3 separate regions of the Homo sapiens genome follow, and all the other regions are linked to region 1. The links come from fine-mapping of genetic effects on gene expression. A gene starts in region 1. Each other region holds a variant in brackets. All regions are shown on one strand. Distances are from middle to middle. Region 1 holds the start of NGEF (neuronal guanine nucleotide exchange factor). Region 2 overlaps NGEF (neuronal guanine nucleotide exchange factor). Region 3 overlaps NGEF (neuronal guanine nucleotide exchange factor).

Evidence for each region. PIP is the estimated chance that this variant, and not a neighbour inherited with it, causes the effect. A credible set is the group of variants that fine-mapping cannot tell apart.
Region 2: its variant is the best candidate, but not a certain one, in a credible set for the expression of NGEF in testis (GTEx, PIP 0.70).
Region 3: its variant is the best candidate, but not a certain one, in a credible set for the expression of NGEF in adrenal gland (GTEx, PIP 0.82).

The regions. Positions count from the first base shown.
Region 1 is chr2:233,012,068-233,014,825 of GRCh38, reverse strand. NGEF (neuronal guanine nucleotide exchange factor) reads left to right here and starts at 1,570. Exons shown (of 15, transcript NM_019850.3): 1 at 1,570-1,758. It overlaps LOC101928881 (a long non-coding RNA gene), which reads right to left and starts at 2,212. Exons shown (of 3, transcript NR_136325.1): 1 at 1,857-2,212; 2 at 1,579-1,686.
Region 2 is chr2:232,887,025-232,889,782 of GRCh38, reverse strand. It overlaps NGEF (neuronal guanine nucleotide exchange factor), which reads left to right. Exons shown (of 15, transcript NM_019850.3): 9 at 1,676-1,750. Among named protein-coding and RNA genes, the nearest start is that of SNORC, 18 kb to the right of the region's middle. The variant C/T (reference allele first, on the strand shown) is at 1,153.
Region 3 is chr2:232,900,673-232,903,430 of GRCh38, reverse strand. All of the region lies in intron 5 of NGEF (neuronal guanine nucleotide exchange factor), which reads left to right. Among named protein-coding and RNA genes, the nearest start is that of SNORC, 32 kb to the right of the region's middle. RefSeq lists enhancers at 692-1,891, 1,773-2,396, 2,397-2,758. The variant C/T (reference allele first, on the strand shown) is at 1,613.

The DNA of each region.
Region 1 (2,758 bases):
GGTGGATGGATGGGTGGGTGGATGGAAGTGTGGATGGGTGGATGGATGGGTGGATGGGTGGATAATGGATGGATGGATGGGTGGATGGATGGGTGGATGGGTGGATGATGGATGGATGGGTGGATGGATGGTGGATGGATGGATGGACGGATGGATGGGTGGATGGGTGGATGGATGGGTGGATGGGTGGATGGATGGGTGAGAGAATAGATGAGAGACTACTTCAATCTGGCTTTCAGGGACAAAACTGAAACCCATGTTTTGTGGCAATCAGATGGCTGTGGGAACTTTCAAAGATGGCCCTCAGGGACCCCCACCCCTGGTATTGTGCCCTGTGTAATCCCCTACCTTTGAGTGTAGGCTGTGCCTGATGACTTCCTTCTAACGAGTAGAATATGCCAGAAGTGATGGAATATCACATCCTTGAGTATATTACAAAAGACTGACCTACCTCTTCCCAGACTCTCTCCATAGCCCTCTCTGATGCAACGAGCTGCCAGGGCGGAGAGGCCCACATGGCAAAGGACTGATAGTGGCCACAGCTGACAGCTGAGAGGGGCTGAGGCCTTCATCCTACAGCCCTAAGAAACTGAATCCTGCCAACACCAGCAGCTTGGAAGTGGATCCCCCCTAGTGGAGCCATGAGATGAGACCTCAGCCCCTCCAACACTTGGATGGCAACTTATGAGAAACCCTGAGCAGAGAACCCAGCCAAGCAGTGCCCAGACTTCTAGCCACAGAAACTGAGATGACAAATGAGTGTTATTTCAAGCCACACACTTTGAGTTAATTTGTTTCCAGAACAGATAGCTAAAACAAACGCTGATTTGAGTTTTATATAAAGATGGATGATGTAGCAATTAAACTTGGCAAATGATGGTAGTGGTTTTGATACTAGTTGGCTTGGGTTTGAATCCTGGATCCCCAACTTACTAGCTGTGGGGCTTTGAGCAAGATGATCAATTTCTTGAGCCTCTGTTTCTGCATCTTTAAAATGGGCATGATTCTCTGGTCATAGTGACAACACAAGGATTACATAGATTATGTAATGTACTTAGCCCAGTGCCTGTCATGTAGTAAGCACTGGATTAAAGGAAGCTATTAGAGGGAATAATAATAATAATAATAATAATAATAATAATAATAATAATGGAGCAAGATGCCTTACAAAGCAGTGAGTGTTCCATGCCTGGAAGTGATTGAGTTAAGGCCAGATGGCCATGGCAGGAAGTGACTAGAACCCTGGAGGACCCCAAAGCCTCTCCCAAATCTCAGATTTGAGGGCCGTGCAGCTGGCTTGGCCAATGCTTGGGGTTGGTGGGCCAGCTGAGCCACGGGCCCCTCTTGGTGTGACCATCAGCATTATCTTGCACTGGGCGGGCGGCGGGTATTCCAGCCATGCCCAGCCTTCCCCTCAGATAGCCCTTCCCTCCTGCACCACTTTTGTGTCAGGTATGTGGCTGCCACCCTGGCTCAACCCATGGGGCCCAGGAAGGTAAACACCCAGCCGGGAAGTGATCGTTATGGGCTCGTGGCCAGCTATGGGCCAAGGCAGGTCTAAAGGTCGGGAATGCTTACCAGTGAAGCTTTTCCAGGACAGGACGAAGTTTTTGGCTGTGGGCTCTCTGGGACAGAGTGGAGCGCCTGTGGATTTAGCCGGGGACACACCATCCTGCTCGCAGGTGCCTGGACAGGACAGGGGACGAGGGAGGAACACTCTCTGAGGAAGCCCAACTCCTATGAGCTCCTCTCTGGCAGGTGAGAGAATGGTTTTGGTATTTTTTAAAAAAATAAAATGAGATAAAACAAGAGAAGGAACAGAGGCTACCGCTAGGACAGGTAGGAAAGGAGATTACCACCCATCCATTCACTGAGGAGGAGCCCCCAAGAGAAACAGCAGCCCTGGATTCCACCCGAGGGATCCTGTCTGGTCTCGGCTTCAGCACTGCCCCTCCTGGCACTCAGTTTCACCATCTGGGAATCAGGATAAGGACTCCTTCCAGGCGCTCTTCCATTATGGCTGTGGGGTAAGTGAGATCAAAAGCAGGAATGGCTGCATAATTGCAGGGCCCTGTGCAATATAAAAATGCAGGGCCCCTTGTTAAAATAGTAAGGCTTTCAAAAGGACAACAACACAGCATTAAAGCAAGCCGGGGCACCTTCTAAGAACAGGGCCCTGTGACTGCCCAGGCCCCACACCCACGACGCCAGTCCTGATAATGAGCGTATATGTAAACGGAAGTGCCCTGATTCCTGTGTGCCATGGCACAAATCTCAGGGTCAGGAAGTGCACTTGGGAAACAGAAGTCATAGTCGTGAAGTGACAGCCCACTGCGCTTTAGCTCCCCCAGCACTGCCCCCTCCGCTCAGGGGCCCCTTTCAGAAAGACAGAAGGCCCTACCCCTCAGAACCTTCCTGATTTTTGCATCTGGCTGGCCTCAAGCCACAGCACGGTGTGACTGAAATGTGTAGGGACACAGTTTTCTTGGATGTGAAAGTGGTAGGTTCTTATTGTCTATCTTGATTTAAAATTTGGGACAGTCACACAGTCTCTGGCTGTGTAGAGGTGGGACTTGTGTTTCCTGGGCTCGTGACAGCTCTGCTATGTTCCATTGACTATCAGTGTATTTCTGCTTTTTGGGAAAATCCTTAATGCAATAAGGCCACTGGTGGGAATGTTCCAGCTTGGACACTTGCCATGTGTCTTTGTCCTCCCTGCCCCTTCTCTCTTTCTCTCTCTCTCTCTCTCTTTTTCCAT
Region 2 (2,758 bases), 130 kb after region 1:
GGAGCATGAGGCCAAGGAAGCAGTTGTCAGGAGAAGCCCCTGGCCCAGGGCTAATGGAGATACGAACGTGAGGGCAAAGCCGGGATGGCGACCCCAAACCGGAAGACACCTGTGATGAACGCAGTTCCGTGGGAAATATTTTTTTAACTTGGAAAAAGTGAAACAGAAGACAGTAACATTTCCTAATTATGCAGTGAAAAATATTTTAGGACATTTTATAGGGAAAGTGCATATATGAATATATTAAAACCTTAGCTTCTATAAGATGAAAACCAACAGTAAGATTAAAAGCAATGGAAATGCAGTGATTAGGAAATGGTGGAATGGGGACAGCTGGGGTGGGCACTCAGGGAAGGGCTCAGAGAAAGGGGTGGCGGGTCAGGGACCATTCCAGAGAGAACGGCAAGTCTCCACATCAGGCAGCATGCTGGGGACACACCGAGTGGAGGCTGGCGTGGGAGAGCACGTGCCAGGCTAAGGAACCCATACTGCCCTCCATCTGAGGCCACCAATGCCACCTGGTCAGATGCAGCTTTTATGCCTGTGAGAAAAGATGGCGTCTAAACCGTGCTGTTCAGCAGGGATTTGGAAGTAGGGGGACAGTTAATGACAGGCATGGTGGCCACATACAGGATGGAAAAAGCAGGAAGGTGGCTGTGGGTCTCGAAGGTCTCTGGCTTGGCTGCCAGGCAGAGGCGGGCAGGTGACCACAGGAGAGGCCTGGGCTGCTGTCAGGGGAGACATCTGTGCTGCCGTGGCACCCAGCAGCCGGGAGGACAGGTGGTTGGTGCCCAGATGCACCCAGCCTACTTACAGGACAAAAGCCAGTCAGAAAACGTGGGCATGGTGGGGACCGCTAAGAGGAAACCATGTGGAGTTTATAGAGCAATGTCAAAATCGTAATTTACAGGTGAAAGCAGTATGGGCATAATTTTTTGTTAACTGAAGAAAATTGAACAGTTGGAGAAGAGACTCTTTCTTACACTTTCATGGAGAAGACCAAAGTTAACAAAGTTTCGGGGCCAAATGACAGTCCCAGGGAGGAGAGGGAAGCCCTTGGTCCCCCTACCCCTGTCCCGTAAGCATTTAGCTCCCCTTGGGGACAGAGCTGACCCTAAGCGTGACAGTCCTCACTGCTGGGTGCCACACCTG[C/T]GGGCTCTCTTGCTCTCCATTTGTCAGATGGAGGCTGTGTGTATGTGTGTGCGTGCATGCGTGTGTGTGTGCAGGTATGCATGTATGTGCATGCATGTATGTGTGCGCACACATGCTTGTATGCATGTTTGTACACGTGTGTACATGTGTGTGCACTGTGCTTGCAAGTGTGCATGCATCGTGTTGTGCATGTGTGAGCATGTATGCACGTGTGTGCATGCATGTGTGCACGTGTGCTTGTATGCATGTTTCTACACGGTGTGCATGTGTGCACACTGCTTGCAGGTGTGCATCATGTGCATGGTGTGCATGTGTGTGCGAGCATGTATGCACGTGTGTGCACACGCAGGTCTGTATGCATGTGTGCATGCATGTATGCGTGTGCGTGCGTGCGTGTGTGTGTGTGTGCATGCTGCAGCATGGGGCTGGACTGGTGCAGTAGGGAGGTAGTCACGGTCAAGGTGGGAAATGGGAGGAAAGACCAGAAAAGATTAAAGTTAACGCAGCCTTTCTCTGTGCATAGAACATCCTGAAGAGGGTAGAAGAGAGGTCTGAGCGGGAGTGCACTGCTTTGGATGCTCACAAGGAGCTGGAAATGGTGAGTCTCACCTCCTCTTGTGCTGTATCCCAATGCACTGTTTTCCTCATCCAGGCACACCTTTCCGGCCCTGCTCCCCACATGTCCGTGTGTCTTTTTAGAATATGCAAATTTATTTTAAAATTCACTTTTGCAATCAAAAGAGTCACTGGGGCTTAAAAAAATACACCAGGCATGGCTTGGGTAGAGAGCCTTCTTTACCCTGCTTCCTGGCTCCAGCCTTACGTACTCACCGCCTGTCTTGTTACTGTGCCTGGCATGGATGTGGGGACAGCAGCGTGGCTCTCAGGACATTCTTCACCAGTGTGGAGCTCTGCGATCATGCACAGGCCCTGATTCCTCTCATCAGCTCCCTGGGATTGTTCTTTGCAGGCATCTGGGGCCCACACAGACCCCAGGCTTGTCTTTGCCTGTTTTTCCATGTCAGAAACAGTCTCTCCTCCCTCCTGTGAGGCTCACCGAGGCTGGTTCCCACTTTCCCTGTGCCCTGATGAAGCCCTTTGCTCCGAACCCAGCCCTCCACGCCACTCTCCCAGTCCCCGGAGCTCAGTCACCCCTGTGCATCTCTGTGAGGGGATTCACTGGCCCTGCCCAAGAGCCCTGGGCCTTTGCTGCCCAAGAGTGCAAGGACCATCTCTCCAGACCATCTCCTGACCCTCAGAGAGAGACGGCTCCTCCTAGAGGTTTGCAGCAGAGCAGGGGTTTTGCGGGAAGGGCCAGCGAGTATGTTTCAGTCCTCAGGAGCTCTTACCATGCGCTCTGCCACGTTTGGCTCCTGGCATCAGCTGGAGCTGAGAGCCAGCTTTTGACAGCTGTGCTAGGGCACCTCCATTGAGCCAGTGACGCCGTCATGGTGGAGAGCAAGGCGGGGGATGTCCATATTCCACTTCTTTGTCACCCCATGGCAGAAGCTTAGTAAAAAGAATATCACTCTCAGTGGGCATCTGATGGTCATTCTCAGCCACATTGAGACATGAGGACTTCCTACCCTATTGCAGTCGGTTCCCA
Region 3 (2,758 bases), 110 kb after region 1:
TGTCACACAAATGTAAACTAGTATTAAAATACTGACCATATCTTTCCATCTCCATCCAAATAGAGCACCCTCATTTTTGCAGTTTTCTGGGCTCCACTGTTTAGATGTTCCATAATGTATTTAACCTGTCCCTGTTGATGGATATTTGCAGTTGGAAATACCGGGTACTGAGAGTGTTCATTGCAGCATTATTTATACTCATGGAAGATTGAACATCTACACAGTGGAATGCTAAGGGAATTGCTAAGTGGGATTGTTGGGTGAAAGGTTAAATGTTCTTTAAATTTTGAGAGGGTATCGCCTAATTGCCTTCACACACTAGCCACATATGAGTGTGCTGGTCCCCTGCCACTAATGTGGTGCCTTACCCAGCTATTTTCTCTTTACCCAGTGTGCTAGATTAAACATTTTTTGTTTTGTTTTGTTTTTGTTTTGTTTTAAGACAGTCTCACTCTGTCACTTATGCTGGAGTGCAGTGGCGCGATCTCAGCTCACTGCAACCTCCACCTCCCAGGTTCAAGTGATTCTTCCACCTGAGCCTCCCAAGTAGCTGGGATTACAGACACCGGCCACCATGCCTGGCTAATCTTTTGTATTTTTAGTAGAGACGGGGTTTCACCATGTTGGCCATCGAACTCCTGGCCTCAGGTGATCCACCCGCCTGGGCCTCCCAAAGTATTGGGATTACAGGTGTGAGCCACCGCACCCGGCCTCGTTGTGGTTTTAACATAACATTTCTCTTGCCATGAGGCAGGCTGAACATGTTCTCAAGCATGTGTCTTTTTAAATTTACACACACTTATTTTAGCATGTAAACATTTTTGCGAATGATTTTATTAACAGGTCATCTTGAGAAAACGTAGTAATTGGCATTTGTGATGTGTGTGAGTGCCGAGGCTTGGGTTTGGGCCCCCAGCGCCTGCATCCCATGGCTGCGTTGAATATGTGACTCCCCTCGTCCCTTAGCAACCCAAGGGGTTAGCTGTCACTCCCCCATCAGACAGCCAAGCCCCCACTCCCCACGCTGCTCACGGGACCTGCTCAGTCCGGCCTCGAATTCACTAAAGACTGCGCTGCAGCGGGCTGGGCTCGGGCTCTGGCTCTGGAGTCCGACTTCATCATCATTGTCTGCAGAAGGAGGATAGCCTTTGAGGGGTTTCTTCTTAACTGGAAGCCTTTTAAAGTCACTTCCGTGCATCCTGATGCCTGCAGTGTAAATGACTGCACCAGCAGCAGGCACCGAGGCAACTTTGTGACCTTGCTGTTGAGTCATCCTGGGGAACAGAGGATGTGAATCACCCCAGGGCGGCTGCAGCAAGAGGACTCTGTGGGGCAGGAGCAGAGAGTGGAGAGCTTGGGAGCGCCCTGCGCCCCTGGCTCTGGCTCTGGCCCCAGCTGCTAGAGGAGAGAGAGGAGTGGGCCATGGTGATCCCCGTACCACACACACCCCAGCCACTGCCCTGCCGAGGACAGACTGAGGCCGGGTCTTCAGCGGCCCAGGTGGCCCTGATAGCTCCCAGCAGCATACTGGAGACACGGAGCCTGGATGGTAGGGCCTGTGCTGAGGTGTCACGGCGACGTCCCCACAGCCTCTAAGGGAGTCCCGGAAGGA[C/T]GCCTTAGACCCTTGGCATTCTGCCTGGCCTTCTCTTCATCCCCTCCCTCCCTCCAGGCAAAAGCCAGTGAACTAAGTTGGGCTCCAGGCCAGTGCCCTGATGCCCAGGACTGGGGGTGACCTGTGTGGGGAGGGCCTGGCACACGGGTGGATGGGAAGGGACCTCGCAGAACCCTTGTGGGGAAGGGGCTACGTTTTGTTTCCTGGCCGTGAGGAAGGTGGAGGGCAGCCAGTGAGCCCGCCCTTCAGTCCACGGTCTGCTGGCCTTTGGCTCCGACCCCCGCAGATGTCACCCTGGTGACGCAGCTGCAACAACGCATCGAAGGTCACAGCATCAGAGACAGCAGTGATTTGTTAACACAGGGGTCGGGAGAAGCCAAAAAAACAACCCAAATCAGGCTGGAATGCACGGCCCAGAGGTCCACGGCGAACCCTGGATCATAAGGAGACCGTGTAGGTAAAGAGCGGGGAGGAGAAATCGCGCAGCCTCGAGCTTTGCTGAGGGTGGGGAACGCAGGGTTGATCCGAGTGCGGAGGCAGGAGTGGGACTCCGAGGACAGACACTGTAGTCCCGGCCGGCCAGGCAGCATGGCCCATGTTTGACCGTGAACTGCAGGACAAGCTGAACTGCCTTAAGTAACAGGGAATTGGGGCCCGCGGGCTGCGTAAAAGCCCGTCGCTCTTTGGGTGTTAGAGCTGGTAAAGCTTCCGCCTTTCTCCATCAGGAGCAGGTTGGCTTCCTGCAGACTTTTCTTGGTGTCCTGGTTCCTCTTTTGTGACCTCTTGCTGATGGGTCTCTTTTGTTTTTCAAATGTGTGACTTGAACAGGGTGGTGTAGGCGGCCCTAACTCCGGGACCTGGCTGATCTGAGGCCGCCGGACGTCACCACCCCAGAGCAGCCCCGTGGCCCGCGCTGCCTGAGAGGGGGCCTGCTCACCTGGCTTCAGGTCCTGGTCCTGGCCCCACGGGCAGCGTGGCTCCCAGTGCCTCTGTGGGTGATTGTGTGAGAGCATGTGTGTGTGTGAGTGAATGTGTGCATGAGTGTGAGAGCGTGTGTGTGTGAGTGAATGTGAGTGAACGTGTATATGAGTGACTGAGAGCGTGTGTGTGAATGTGAGTGAACGTGTATATGAGTGACTGAGAGCG